Linked DNA regions of Homo sapiens. The protein of the gene in region 1 purifies or fractionates together with the protein of each later gene. This does not show direct contact. Each region holds a gene or a part of one and is shown in the gene's direction. Other genes may lie near its edges.

The links. Proteins that work in one complex are often made in the same cells at the same time.
Region 2: the proteins of SOX5 (region 1) and ANKRD40 purify together in Homo sapiens (affinity purification with mass spectrometry; 2 studies listed by BioGRID and IntAct, with this or other methods). This does not show direct contact.

Annotation. Positions count from the first base shown.
Region 1 is NC_000012.12:23,946,529-23,954,852, reverse strand, and holds the start of SOX5 (transcription factor SOX-5), read left to right. Parts: upstream 1-5,182; 5' UTR 5,183-5,191; coding exon of another isoform or gene 5,192-5,251; coding exon 5,252-5,289; intron 5,290-8,324.
Region 2 is NC_000017.11:50,697,152-50,704,914, reverse strand, and holds part of ANKRD40 (ankyrin repeat domain-containing protein 40), read left to right. Parts: intron 1-4,198; coding exon 4,199-4,347; intron 4,348-5,021; coding exon 5,022-5,516; intron 5,517-7,763.

The DNA of each region.
Region 1 (8,324 bases):
GAGAGAAGTATGAAACTAGAGTTTCTAAGGTGAAGGTGTTTCTGAAGAACACTGTTTCTTCAAATATGCAATCTGAGAACAATTCATCTGTGTATTCTAACCAACTGACAATAGAAAGAGTATGAAGTTAGAAAAACCTTGAATTTGTAGGCTATTGTGTACCAGTTCCTTGGCATACATGTATTATGGTGGACTGAATTTTAGGTCTTTAAAAAAGAAGATAGGCTATAGAATGCCTAAGGTATTTTTTGAAGAAGTCCACTATTACAAGACACTAGTCTAAGAGTTTTAAGCTACATGTGATAGGTCAATAGTGAGCTCACCAGGCATCTGGTGAATGACTCACAGATGTATATTGGTTGGAAGTTTCCTTCTTTCTTTCTTTCTTTCTTTTTTTTTGAAAGAGGAAGTGTCCTCTTTTTAATTTTAATTTTTTGTGACAAAGTAAATAACAGCACAGGCAAAAGGCATTTTCTTAATGCCCATTGTGTCACCTTAAGGCAATAAAATGTTAGTATTGTCTGACACTGATATGCTTTAAATACATTGTGATTATAATATTAAGAGTTTTATTTCTCAAAATAAGTTTTCCAAATTCTATGAGATGTGAAAACTAGGGTGATGGTAGGAATTCATATCAAATATGGAAGTGTAATTTGCACCTATGACCACATATTTTTATTTCAGGTATTAAAATAGAAGATACTTAATGATTCTGATCTAAAATAGAGGAATGAAAATATATCCTTTTAAAATGAGGACAAAAATAGTAGAAATGCATGCTGGAAACTATACCTGAAAAGGGGTTAAATTTGAAAATAACTTGTTTGTGATTTTAAAAGTTCTTGATAGTCTCTTTGAGAATTTTCCAGCAGTGTTCTCTAGCATATCTTATATTCCTTAGCCTGTGTCAATCCCCTTTTTATATCTGCAATGGAAACAACATGAGCTCAAAAGCATACTTTTTCATGTTCATTCCATTTTCCATTATACCGATGCGGCAGTGTCAAAAAGACTCATTCAATGTAAAACTTTTATTGGGTTACTGTTGCACTTTGGTCATCTCTGAAAATATATTTTATTTGTGTATCTGTGCTTGTAGATCATACTTATTTACCATTTTATGTATTATTCAGTTCTTAGCACTATGTTTTGTTCATTTGCTTTTTTATTTTTGTTTTAACTTTTCTCACTACATCTGCCTCAGAAGGCTTGAATACTCAAAAATTGATTTGAAATTTGGTTTTATATACATATATATAATTAGAATTGTTATAACTTTTTAAAATTCTTTTATTAAAGCCATAGCACTTAACATATTGGTAAGCATTTAATAGATGTTAAGTGAATGCAAAAGTATGTCTCAACCCAGATGTATTTTGAAACCTTAACAAACATCACATTGCGGTATTAGTTGTGATGTAAAGAATATCTATAGTCAATTGAATATCTTAAGCTTTTCTGATAATTGAAAAAGAATTTGGGTTTAATAGATGCGCTAGTCATGAACACATATTTAATATTTAAACATTTTAACGTTTAATGCAAAATTTAAAAGATTCAATTAACAGTATTTTAATATTAAACATTGTATTGATTGGATCATTTTGATCATTTAATGAAATAACCCAAGACAAAATTTAACCAAAACATTTTGGAACAGTCTTTCCTTTTGCTGATATTCTAAAGTCTGACAGAAATGCTAATTTTCAATATAGGATTCAAATGAAAGAAAACTTTTATGGCTTAGAGAGGTACATTTTAAAATATTCAATTAAACCATCATATACAGTATTAGCTTAATGACAGCTTTTATAAATTTTATTTTTTATAACAATTACCTGAAAGCCTTTCAGGTCACTTAAAGTATGAGTACCATCTTGGGATTTTCATCTAACTATAAATTCTGGAGGATCAGTTTATTCTGCATTATGGTGTCATAAGTGAAATAGATAGAAGTGGCTTCAAGCAACAAATGGGCTACTAACCAGTTGAATGACTTTAAATTCTGTTTGCCCAAGTTAAACAGTGGGAAAATTAGGGAAATACATACCTACCCCTTTCTACTCTGTAAGATCCATGAGCTAATTTATGTGAACAAAATTCCTTATGATCTTAGAGTTCCATTAGTTCAAATTATCATTATTAGGATGATCATTATTTGGCAAATTTTCTGTCTAGTTCCTCGTCTATTTCAACTCCTTCAGCATAGATGATTGTGCAAGAAATAATTTGTCTTTTGAATGGCTACAGTAATGTTTGCAGAATATATTGAAGTCAAAAAACTAACTTTCAAACCATTTAACATTCTCTTCTATATTCTTTGTGTTTATTTGGCATATGTACAGATGTATACATATATTAAGTGCCAATAAAATCAAAATCAAATATAAGGAAGATTCTAATATGAGTATCTTTTCTTTATACTATAGTTGGCCTCAAACACTCATACTCTTTCTTACCTGCTCTGGTGACCTTCTAGATTAGAGTTTCAAAGAAACAACCAGAGGTAGTAGCTGTAGCAAGACAGCAGCTGGGACCATACGGATCTCAGCATCCTGCCTTATGGCCATTATCTTTGTTTCTATCTTTATGCTGCCACTATGTCTCCTTGTGCTCTCTCTGCGTCCTCTCCTCCCGCCTCCTCCTCTTCCTGACTCCACTCCCATGGCTCCCTGTAACTCACCCATCCTCCTTCTTCACTTTTTTTCTCTATTGATATAAGATAAGCAAGATTTTTCCTAGTTAGGAAAAAAATTTTAAATATTTTTAAAAGTGTATATAGCTATGCAGCTACTATACCCTAATTCTCATAACAACCATTAACAAATGAAGAAAAATATAATTTTTGTATACATTATCCATTAGAGTATATTAGATTGTAGGTCCCTTAAGGGCTGAAAAAATAGAGATTTAAAATAAATGCAACAATTTTTTCATTTTTCTGTGTGGGAGTAGGTTGTTGCTGTAACAAAAAATAATTTGAGACTAACAACAAGAAAGAATAGTGAGTAATATTCTTCCCCCCTTCCCCAACTGCTGAAAGTGAAAATCATGTCAGCATCAAGTCATTTTTGCCACATCCCTTGTTAACAGCTTTTTCAGGGTGGGTCATAGTTCTATGTTTTGTTAGTGTCTTAACTCCATAGTGACATGCTTAAATCTTATTCCACATTGATTTTGTAGTGTGTGTGTGTGTATATATATATTTTTAGAACATCTCCTGATGATAGAATTAAATATTAAGTTATTATCAACTTGTCTAAAAATTTATAAGCTTTGAATGAAAAATAAATTTACTAATATAAGTTCATAATTGATTTTTTTCTCTTTGGAATATGTGTATGATGTATCACTGTGAATGTCTAAAAAAGTAAACTTACTGTTTGCCTGTCTCCAGAAAAAAAAGTGGGACCTAATCAAACTGCCGTGGGGTCAACCCTTGTGGTTTTAAAGGCCCTTAATGTTGTCCAGCTGCAAAATAAAAGGAATTGGGAGGGGAAGTTGGAAGGAGTGGAGGGGGTTGGGGGGGAGGAATGTGTGGAAAAGAACAGGGAGTCTGGCTTTTATTTTTTTTTTAAGTGAGTTCAGTGCCAGCCTGGACATTGGCTGTACAGACTATTGAGCCATTGTCTGCTCCATTTCCAGAATAGCCCCCAGTTAATCACTTCGGCTTTGAAGGGAATTTCCTCGTGGAATTCTCCACAGAAAATCTAATCAACTGACCTGCCCTCTCAACAATGGAAGGCTTTTTTTTCCTCTCTTTCCCTTATTGGGGCGGGCTCTGTAATGTAGCCTTTTGTGCAGAATGAACCCTCCCAGTAGGAGTGGAGAGCGTGCGTGAGTGAGTGTGTGTGTGTGTGTGTGTGTGTGTGCATGCGTGTGTGAAGAATGCACACTATCTCCTGTTGGTAAGTGTGTGCTTACTCCCTGACCAGATGCTGCGGTGCACGGGGCAGCCACCATCTCTGCATGCATGTCTGTGTAAGTGTCTCTCTCTCTGTGTGTATGTGCCTCTGTCATTTCGTGTCAAAGGTACATTACCTGATTACCTTTCTCGGCTGCCAGATTTTTATCTAGATAATTGGAACTGCTATGGAGGCTGTGCCTTGCCAGCCAGCTTAGAATCTGTAAAGCCATAGTTTGTCCACCTTGTTATCTGTGGCTGCCTGGGCAGAGGAAATTAAAGAGATCCACAGCCAGGGGGGCGCTTCCTACTCCTGACCTCCCCAGCGATCCCAAACAGGACAGTTTGTTAGTACCGTCTTTTTGTTTTTATGTTTTGATTTCGTTTTGGGTTTTTGTTCGCTCGTGTATGTTATTTTGGCATGTGGATACCTATTCCCCTCCACATCGCACATCGTGTTTTATGGAGTTTAGAGCTGAGGAAACTTTGGTCGGGTTGCCAGGACGTTCGCACCACTTTGCGGAAAGCACGAGCTAACAGTGAGACCGACAGAGTGAGTGACAAGTTGTTTACAGGTTTCCTTGAAGGGGCCTCTGCTATATTTCAATCTGTCAAAGTTGCTTTTCTTCCCTCAGAACAATGCCTGATTGTTGTGTGTGTGTGAGTGTGTGTGTGTGTGTGTGCGTGTATTTCCGTGTGTGAACGGAGAGAGCCTAGAAAAGGGTGAGAAGGAATAACAATTCTTTGTGTAAAAATGCTATTACTAACATTAAATTTTTTGCTTAATTAGTTAATAAATGCAGTTTAATCGAGCTTCTGTTATTATATAGACTAGGTTTTTAATCAGCAGCAAATACGTTTTACAAAATCATACTGTTCTGCGTGTGTATGTGTGTGTGTGAGTTTTATGATTTAGAAGACAGAGTATGGGAGACGTGTTAAATGAGTTGACTTCTCACATTCAGTGATGTCTAGAAGAGAGAATTAAAAGGAAAGGACAGGCACCCTGAGGTTGTCTAGAGCCTTGCAGCCGGAGCGTGTGGCTCCGCGGAGGGGGGAGCAGCCAGACTCCGCTGCTGGAAGTGCACTACCCCTTTAAGAGACTGGTCAAGGAGTCCTAGGAGAGAGAGGAGGGGAAGGAGGGGGGGAGAAAGAGAGAGAGAGAGAGAGAGAGAGAGACAGAGAGAGAGAGGGAGAGAGAGAGAGAGAGAGAGGGAGGGAGGGAGGGGGGGAAGAGACAGAGAGAAAATCAATTGGTTTAGAAGGTTTGGACTCACTTGACAGGTTCAGTTGGAGACGATCATAGGTGGCTGCTGTGACAAAGGGAAATTGTGCTTTTCCAGCATGCTTACTGACCCTGATTTACCTCAGGAGTTTGAAAGGTGAGTACAGTTTTTTCCCCCTAATATATTGAAGTACAACTCTCCCATTTTACAGTAGTCTCTGAATCATTGGAAGATGCTCCCCCAAAACGTGTTTGTTAGAGAAGCCTTTAGCTAGGGCTTCTGCAATCTTGTTAGCTGATTTTTTGTTGTGATTGCCCGGACCAAACTGAACTGATTTGCAAAGTCTCCGAGATTTCTGCTAATGTTTTTAGGTTGCGTCCTATAACAGCAAATTAAATGAACCTTAAGCATCTCTCTCTCTCTCCCCAACTCGCTGCTTCTGTCTTTCTCATTCACTCTCTTACTTTCTTCCTTCATTGATTGTTTTCTCCCCACCTTTTAAAAACGCTTTTGTGCAGAATGTTACCATTTTCAGCATCTCTGTCTCATGTAATTTCTAGGGTGACAGAAGGTTTTAGTGGTGCTTTAAACGGAGGCTATAAGTTCCTATTTGATCCTTCCGTAAAACTTTGGAAGCTGCTCAGTAAAGCACATGACCTTTTGTTGATATAAGAGAGCGTTTTTTCCCCCCAAAGAAAATTTAACATCATCGCTATATTAGATTACTCCCTAAGTGTCAAAAATAGGGGCGAAAAGGGGATAAATGGAGCTGTTCCCTTTCTAAGTTTTAGTGGCCACTTTTTGTGTTAGCTGTCTTGACTGAATTTTAATTTACTGTATTTTCCCCTTTTGCTATGATGGGAATAGTGTATTTGTAATTAAGTTGTTCCTATTTAGAGAAATATCTGCAGCATCCTTTTATTTGATGTTGTTGCAAGTAAAGCAGGGCTTTGAAAGAATTTTAGCCCTCTTAATGTTCCTATAAGTACACATTGCAATTTTTAAATTTGAGTTCTTATCCCAGCATAAGTTCATTTTTTTGAACTATAAATAGAATTTTGTTTGCCATTAAAAAGAATTCAAACTTTGTATTCTGTATGGTGAATTAAAAAAAAAAAAGCTAAAAAAAGCCAGGATGCATGATACCCAGGCTTTTTTTCATTTTCATGAAAGCTACCTTCTGTATAAACATTTGTTGTATCTGACTATGCAATGCAAGCTAGGTGCTAGACCAGCTGGTTAAAAATATGCTAAGTCAAGCTGTTCATCGCTCAAACGACTGAATTTGATATGAAAAGACGAAAAAAGAAAGGACAAAGATTAAAACATTCTAGAAGTGAAGCAATGGAAGAGAAAAAGAGTATTGAGGATAAAGTAACGCTTGAATGTGGTCACATATTAGAAAAGCCAGTATCAAATCAGGGAAGAAAGTAAAATAGCCAACACATATACTTCGGTGCTGTCATCTTTCTTTGATTTCTTCTGTGTTTTTTTTTTTAATAATTAAATTGCATCTTTACTAGATAATTCCAGCGAATGTTTGAGCTTTCTTAACAGTTTTGAATTAAAATTTTCACTTCTATATATTAACTCTTTAATTAGTGAGCTTTTATTTGCAAATATAGCCTTATATCATAGGTAGATGTTGAAGTTATTCATAGTGGAACATACTGTACATTACCTAATGTAGCGATTTGCTAATTTAACACAGTTAAGTTTTCTAGAATGCACAGAGTAGCACTTAAATGATAATATTCTTTAATTCTAATTATACTTTTTGCAAATACAACTCTGAGGCTGATTTGTAAGCCTGTTAACAGATTGTACTTATAAAAAGGTAGTTACATATTAACAGGCTGTAGCCTATTTCTCTATATAGGCAAGCTTCCTGCTGTGAACTTTATTTGTATTTTTTTTTCAATTATCTCTTTTTAAACTAAACTTTTCCCTTTCCTATTCTGATGCTCAAATCTGTTAACATCTTTTTTCCTCCTGGTGGGAATTTCATTTTTTTTTTTCACCCAGAGGCATGCTTTTCTAACTAGCTAATTAAATAAGCAAGTGATAATCAATAGGGTTGTTAGTATGACTATCATATTTAGAAATATTAGTAGCTAAAATAATTCTGAAAAATGTCACACAATATAACGTTCCTTAATAATTTCCCCTGTGGTTGTAATTGGTAATACATACAAAGATCTCAGCAAATCATTACTATTTGTTTACATTGAATTTGTACGGGTGAGTGTCTCTATAGGCACCCATGCATGATACAGTGTATCATGTAGACACAATATTGAATATTTATATTCTTCAAAGGAGGTATTTATGATGTAACTAAACTATCACATATAATTAGATTTTTTGCCTTTTCAACTATTTGCAACTTTCATTGAATAAATAGGTCATTTCTATTGACTGTTAATTTTTATTCTATTGGGTCACTTGCTATAGATGAATTTCCCACTTAAACTTAGAAATCTAAAAGAAGACTTCTAAATTTCTTTGTGAAATAGAGAACTTTGATCTAGAGGACATAATAAATTGCTTAGGGTTCATGTACTGTAAAAGTTTTATGTGATCATTTTTACTAATTTCATTGGTAGAGTCTTGTCCATCTTTTATTCTTCCCAGCCTGTAGACTATTTGAACTTTAAGGAATATTCAGAACTTAAATATCAGGATCAAAATTTGGATTTAGATTTGTATATGTCTATATTATCATCCCTAGAAATGAACATGGTCAGTACTCTCAGACTAATAAGCAGTTGTTAAATAGTTAAGAAGTAGTAACAATTTCATTGTCTGTTAAAAATATGCAGGAGGTAGTGCAAATAGAACAGTGATTCTAAAAGGTAAAGAACTTGAAATATTTTTATTTTCAAGCATTCTTGTGATAAACTGATTATGATTACTGAAAAACACAACTCCAAGGTGGGAAGCAAATGGGTGTATATATTCTAAAAAATTATTTGTAAGGAAAGTCTTCTACATTTTACCGTTTAAAGGAAACATAGCTGGCAACATGGTCTAAATGTGAGTAATAGCATCATTAGAATGAACGCCCGAAGTCTCCCCACATTTTTAAAAGAAGTCAATAAATTTATATATTTAACTGAAAGTAGATAATGAAAAATTGTGACTTAAGGTTTTCCTTTGAGAATGTCACCTACTTTTTGATATTTCAAGGA
Region 2 (7,763 bases), on another chromosome or scaffold:
TCTCGATCTCCTGACCTTGTGATCCGCCTGACTCTGCCTCCCAAAGTTCTGGGATTACAGGCGTGAGCCACCGTGCCCGGCCAGCTCAGATAGGGTTCTAAGTGTTTTACATGTGTTAGCTTGTTCACAACTACCTGGGGACATAGTTACTGTTCTCTCCATTTACAGATGAAGAAACTGAGGCCCAGAAACCGTAAGTTGTTTCCTCACTTTTCACAGTGCCCCTTCCCAAGGTCATAGGATTGACAGTAACTAGTGGAGCCAGAAAACAAACCTGGTATCTGATGCCAGACCTACCCTCCTAAACACAATGTCTGCCCCATAGGAGGTGTTTAGTGAAGTGATTCTGAGGTAGCCTGAAGAGGCTTCTTATAGGTTTTTTTTTTTTTTTTTTTTTTTGAGATGGAGTTTCACTCTTGTCACCCAGGCTGGAGTGCAATGCGTGATCTCAGCTCACTGCATCCTCCACCTCCTGGGTTCAAGCGATTCTCCTGCCTCATCCTCCCAAGTAACTAGGATTACAGGTGTGTGCCACCACGCCTGGCTAGTTTTTTGTATTTTTAGTAGAAATGGGGTTTCACCATGTTAGCCAAGCTGGTCTCGAACTCCTGACCTCAGGTGATCTGCCCGCCTCGGCCTCCCAAAGTGCTGGGATTATAGGCGTGAGCCACCGCGCCCGGCCTCTTGTAGATTTAATTGGAGGAACTGTCTAATAGGCCCCTCAAACTCAACATGTCCAAGATTGAATTCCAAGTCTCCCCTCATCCCTCTACCACCTCAAGCCTGCTCCTCTGAGTCCTCAGCCTCTCAGGAGTGCTCAGGCCAGAACCCTTGGCACCCTGCTTGCCTCCTGCTTGCCTCCTGTCTTTCATAGCCGACATCCAGTCAGCCAATTCTATGAGCTCCACCTTCAGATACAGTCAGAATCTGACTACTTCTCACTAACCCTACCACTACACCTCTGATACAAAGCCACCATTGTTTCTCTTGCTTGGATTATTACAATAGCCTCCTACTAGTGTCCTTGCTCCTAAGCTTATATCATACAGTCTTCTTAATTAACACAGTGGTCAGAGGGATCCTGACTTAAAACATAAGTCAGATCATTTCACTCTGCTCAAAAATGGCTCCTATCTCACTCAGTAAAAGCCTACAGGGTCCTACAATTTCTACTTCCTGTCCCCACATCTTCCCTCCTTACCTCTGTGCTAATCTCATGGGATTTGCCCTTCTGCTTACCTTTTTCCCCTGGCCTCCTTGCTTTCTCTGGAATACCAGACAGTCCTGATTCAAGATCTTTGCGTTTTGTCTTCCCACTCTCTTAAATGCTTTCCCTCCAGATATCACATGGTTTGCTTCCTCACCACCTTCAGATTTTAGTTTAGATGTCACCTTCTTGGCAAGGCTTTTCCTGGGCCCTCAATTTAAAGTTGCACAATGCCCCTTTCCAACCTCTGTCATTCCCTAATGCCTTTCCCTGCTTTACTATTGCTGTCATACTTCATCACCACCTAGCGTACTGCGTGCTTTGCTTATTTATTTGCTGATGTCTGTTTCCTCTTCTGTAAAATGGGGGGAATGTTGACAGTAGTATTACCTCATGGGTTTAGAGGATTAAATAAGTTAATACATGTAATGCCTTTAGAACAATGTCCAACACGTAAAGCATTATACCTGTATTAGCCATTGTTGTTGTTTTCTTATTATGAAGCAATATGCTAGATAATGGAATATAAGGTTACCCTCAAAAAAACGTACTCTCTTGCATTTGCAAAGCAGAATGGTGACTGCTTTCAAGTCTTAGTTGCTCAGTAATCACAATTTCAGCACCAATGAGTGATGCCCTGTTGATGAATGACACCCAGTGCCTCAGGTCTGAAATAGTTTCTGACACTAATAAGATATTTTGACTGCAAATGTAAAGCTTAAGGAGTTGAAGTTCAAAGATAGAGTAATCTATCAATTAGATTGATCACTAATCATTCCCCCACATCAGTTGTAATTCAAGTGTCATGCATAACCCTTGGTTCATGAAGAACTTGAAAATATTACCTGGCTGCAGGGGCTCTGAGTTATGGCTGCCCAGAGCCGCACAGCTCTGGACGGTAAATGATGATCACTAAGGCACAGGGCTGTGGGGGCCACGCTATGTTGACTTAACCCTGCTTTACATGGGTGGTAGTTTAGCAAGTTGGTTTGTCCCAGAGTCTCTCAGACCCACTGGTAGTAAATTACCTCCTTTACTCTCAAGCTTGCCACGAACAAGTGATCTACTACTAGCAAGTGAGCATTTTATTTCCAAAAGGGAGCATATTTTTCTCATCATGCTTCATTCATTTTTGAGGGCTCACTTATCATTATAATTGTTCACTTTTTAAGCCTGTGCCACAGACATCCACACACAAACACACTCAAGGTTCCAGTTTGCCCAGAATCAAGGGTAGATTGGATCCTTCTACTTCAAGCAAGGTCCACTTTATCCTTAGTTTACTCATTTGGTACTTTTTTTTTTTTTGAGATGGAGTCTTGCTGTGTTGCCCAGGCTGAAGTGCAGTGGCACAATCTTGGCTCGCTGCAACCTCCACCTCCTGGGTTCAAGCAATTCTCCTGCCTCAGCCTCCCCAGTAGCTGGGATTACAGACATGCACCATCACACTAATTTTTGTATTTTTAGTAGAGATGGGGTTTCACCCTATTGGGCAGGCTGGTCTCAAACTCCCGACCTAAAGTGATCCACCTGCCTTGGCCTCCCTAAGTGCTGGGATTACAGGTGTGAGCCACCGTGCCTGGCCCATTCAGTAAATATTAATTAATACATGCCAAGCAAACACTTCCTTGCCTTCAGGGAGCTTGATCAAGACTCTTCTCTCCCAAACTTAACGAGACTCTTATTTTTCCCAAATTAGCAATAATTTTGTCATTGCATCATGGAATACACCTTAAAGGAACCTGGATAATCTAATTCTAATGAACCATAATGTAGAATGTCACTCTGAGACATCAATGGAATTGCTCCCAGCCAGCCAGACATGCTAACTTTCTGTAAGTTACTAATGTTAAGCCCAGGGCAAATCAGCTTTTTCCTGGAATCATATAAACTTTCCAAATAATTATACTTCCCAGGTTAGTGAACTAACCTTCAATATTGAACATTTGTTCTAATCTTCATTTCTGTATTTGGCTATAAGAGCTCTGAAGATATGTATCTCAGTTCAGTTAGAGAGTTGGTGAAAGAAGACCTTTCAAAACACAGGCGAAAAGTATTTTCCTTCCATAATATACAGTCAGCTCTGGCACCTAGGGATGGATTTAGTTGCTCTGAATCTTTCATTTCTGTTAAGATGGAGTTTTTGCTGGCATGCTAATTATGTTTCTGTACAGTATTAAAATAGTAGCCCTTCAGAGTGTGCAGAATTGCTTCCTCTGTGTACAATATTGAGTGATTAGTTTTACTTAAATGAGTCTGATATGTTAGAAGAACCTGTTCGTGAAGAATTTTGGTTGTTGATGTATATTTTTTAAGTACCTCAGGAATTAAAGTATGTGTGCAGTGCCTTACATTTACGCAGATGAGGATATGTTTGTAGCCTTCTGGAGAGAACTAGAGAAGCCAACTTTTTAAAAATGGAAATTTGGAAATCCTTTGTGTGTGTGTTAAGGAAAGAAAAGTAAGAAGGAAAAAGAAAGTGAGCAACTGGGATTCAGGCAAGAATATCTGCTGTCATAATAATAATTTAAGTGACAGAGCAAGCTGCTGATAGGAGATGGTTATTATCCTGATAATATTGAATCTTCAGGTGGCATATGAAGTGAGTTTCCATAGTCCCTGAAAAGGAATATAGCAATAGAAAAATATGTTTCAGAGACTGAGATGATCTAATGAGCGATACTGATAGAGTATATTCCACGGTATCATTGGAGTTAGCCAGCCAGTGAGCTTACCTTCTGGAGGCTATTGAAATTAAAACTCCTAGGTTAAGTTAGTTTTTCTCAGGAGCCAGAAATGAAATTTAAAAACAAAATTTAAGCATATTAAATATTTTGCTCATCGGCTTTGTGAAAAGTTGAGATTACCAGCCCGGTTACCTGGTTCTAGCTGAACTCTAACAGGCTTGTTTATACATTATTTACTAATGTTTAGAATCTGAAATCCAAAATCACTTCTCCTCTTTTTCAATCATTATTTTCTTTGGTACAGGACTTGTTTACACTGGGCATGTAAACGAAACCATGGTCAGGTGGTCTCTTACCTGTTAAAATCAGGAGCTGACAAAGAAATTCTTACCACAAAAGGAGAAATGCCAGTCCAGTTAACATCAAGGAGAGAAATCAGGAAGATTATGGGAGGTGAGTCTGTGTTTGGGGGAACTTTTGATTTCCTCAGACTCATTGAAGACTTGTGGTATTATTGGCTACGTTCTTAATGCTGGTCAAACAACTGCTCTATTTCTTTCTTTTTTTTTTTTTTTCCGAGACGGAGTTTAGCTCTTGTTGCCCAGGCTGGAGTGCAGTGGCGTGATCTCGGCTCACCACAACCTCTGCCTCCCAGGTTCAAGTGATTCTCCTGCCTCAGCCTCCCAAGTAGCTAGGATTACAGGCATGTGCCACCACGTCTCGCTAATTTTGTATTTTTAGTAGAGACGGGGTTTCACCATGTTGGTCAGGCTGGTCTCAAACTCCCGACCTCAGGTGATCCGCCAGCCTCAGCCTCCCAAAGTGCTGGGATTACAGGCATGAGGCACCGCTCCCGGCAACTGTTCTATTTCTAAAAGCAAATTACTGTGCCAAGATAGTAATTCCAGATTGTTTCTGGGGAGGTCAGCATTGTAAGGTTTTATTTTTTTATTTGTAAAATTTAAGATAATGATAAAAATGGTAATCATAAACCTAATGAAGTATTCTTTTTTCTTCTGACCTGACACTGACCAATGTCACATACCAAAAGACACCACTTTCAAAAGACACCTTGTTTTGATAATTTTGAAAGGACTGTGTAAATGTTCTGTTTTCTTCTTTTTAAGTGGAAGAAGAAGATGATGATGATGATGATGATGACAACCTCCCCCAGCTGAAGAAGGAGTCAGAACTGCCCTTTGTTCCCAACTATTTGGCCAACCCAGCCTTCCCTTTTATCTATACACCCACAGCAGAGGATTCAGCCCAGATGCAGAATGGGGGCCCCTCCACACCCCCTGCATCACCCCCTGCAGATGGCTCACCTCCATTGCTTCCCCCTGGGGAACCTCCCCTGTTAGGGACCTTTCCCCGGGACCACACCTCTTTGGCACTAGTTCAGAATGGTGATGTGTCGGCCCCCTCTGCCATACTCAGAACACCAGAAAGCACAAAACCGGGTCCTGTTTGTCAGCCACCAGTGAGTCAGAGCCGCTCCCTGTTTTCTTCTGTCCCGTCCAAGCCACCAATGTCTCTGGAGCCTCAAAATGGGACGTATGCAGGACCAGCGCCAGCATTCCAGCCATTTTTCTTCACTGGAGCATTTCCATTTAATATGCAAGGTAACCCCTCATCAGCAAACAGCCTCTGCAACAGGGGAGTTGGTGTCCAGAGGGGTGGGATTTAATGAGGTATTCTGGGTATAATTGCAAACTTACAGAAACGTTACATGACTAACATAAGGAACTCCCTTTACTCAAATTCACAAATTGTTTACCTTTTGCCCTTTTACCCTGATACCCTTCAGTATTCTTTCCATTATATCTTTCCTAAGAACAAGGATATTCTCTCTTTTTTTTATTGAGACGTAGCTTCGCCCTGTCACCCAGGCTGGAGTACAGTGGTGTGATCTTGGCTCACTGCAACCTCCGCCTCCCAGGTTCAAGTGATTCTTCTGCCTCAGCCTCCCAAGTAGCTGAGATTACAGGAGCATGCCACCACGCCTGGCTAATTTTTTTTTTTTTTTTTTTTTTTTGTATTTTTAGTAGAGATGGGGTTTCACCATGTTGGCCAGGCTGGTCTCAAACTCCTGACCTTAAGTGATCTGCCTGCCTCAGCCTCCCAAAGTGCTGAGATTATAGGTGTGAATCACCGCACCCAGCTGGATATTCTCTTATATAACTACAGTACAAATGACCAAATTTGAGAAATGTAATCTTGAGCTAATGCTGTTCTGTAATCCATAGACCATGTTTAAATTTTGTCAGTTGTCTCAAACATTGCCTTTTGTATTCCCTCATCTACTATACGTACTGTCTGTACTATTACAGAAATAGTACTATCTGTACTATTGATATCTATCTGGACTATCTGTACTCCTCTGCCCCCTGCATCCTGCCCAGGATCATATGTTGCATGTAGTTATCACGTTGTTTTAGTTTCCTTTAATCTGGAATCTTTACCCTTTATCATTTTTGATCTTGATCTTTTTGAAGAGTCCAGGCCAATTATTTTTGTGGGATATGATTTTCTATCATTCTTTCTCTACTTATTAGTTGGTATTTTACTGTAAAGAAGGGCTTTCCCTTCTCCTTCATTCATATCAGTATTGACTCATATATTCTTATTTTATTCAGTGGGTTATAATCTGTTACTATCATTTTTTAATTATTCAAATTATCCCAGATTTGGCCAGTGGGAGCCCCTTGAAGCTAGTTCTTATGTCCCTTGCATGTGTCTTCATTGTTCTTGGAGCACTGCCTTACTTTCTGGGGCAGCAAGATGTTCCGGGCTTATAGCATAACTTTTCCTGCCCCAACCCTGGAATCAGTCATTTCTCCAAGAAGCCCTGGTTCTTTTTGGTGGAGAATGGTATTTAGGGCACACAGCAAACTTGCCTCCCACTTGGGCCCACCGAGAATGGTATTCAGACACCAGGATGTGGTCACTAGGTGTCCTCATTGCTACAGGTATATCATTTCTTCTAGGCCCGTTGAGAGGACATAGCCAGGAAAGATATCAATATTTCTCTATGTATAACTTTTTAAAAATATTAAAAACCACAAGTTCATCCTGATTCTTCCAAATCCAGTCAAATGCCATAGGGTGTAGCTAGTCTTACTTTTCCTTTTTTCCTGGAAGTAACTCTCTCACTTCCTGTTTTTGAGGAGTTACTACTGTAGGTGCTAACAGTGACCTGGGGTGCTACAAGGGATTCATATACAGGGAACAAAGCAGAACTGCCAAATGTACAGGGTGCTTGACTCAGGCTGTCTTGGCAGCCAGGTTCAGAATAAAGGAGCAGATTGCTTAGATCCCAGACCTATGAATAATAAGCCAAGACCCCTTCCTCATGAAGGTGTGCTACATTCAAATCAAGTTATACTTTAGCTTTTATTAGTAGCTTGTCATTTGGCTCTTTTACTGTCTTTTTTGCAAGGAGTTTCATATTTTACAGATACCTTTAGGTCCATAATTGTTAAATCTTTTTAGGGTAACTCACATCCTGCCCATGCCTTCTTTCCAACCTTCTTCCCTCTTCCCCTGTTCATGTATAGTTTGATACCCAAACCTGTTCTTAAGACTTTGCCTCCTTAGCTCCAATGGCAGAAGTAAATTATCCTTCTACATAGCTGGAATGGTTTCCCCTGCCTTGCTCTTACTTTGTGAACCATAGCCTTAGAAGTACGGACGACAGTGCAGGAAACTGCCCCAGCAGAGGCAGAGCTGGGCCTGAGCAAACCCTGCTGGCTGCACTTGGTTTTCCCACCAAACAGGTCTGTTAATCATGCACAGACCTTTGGCATGATTAAGTATAACCATCTTCTGGAAAAGATCTTAAACAACATGGGCTGTGCTGTGCCAGAACT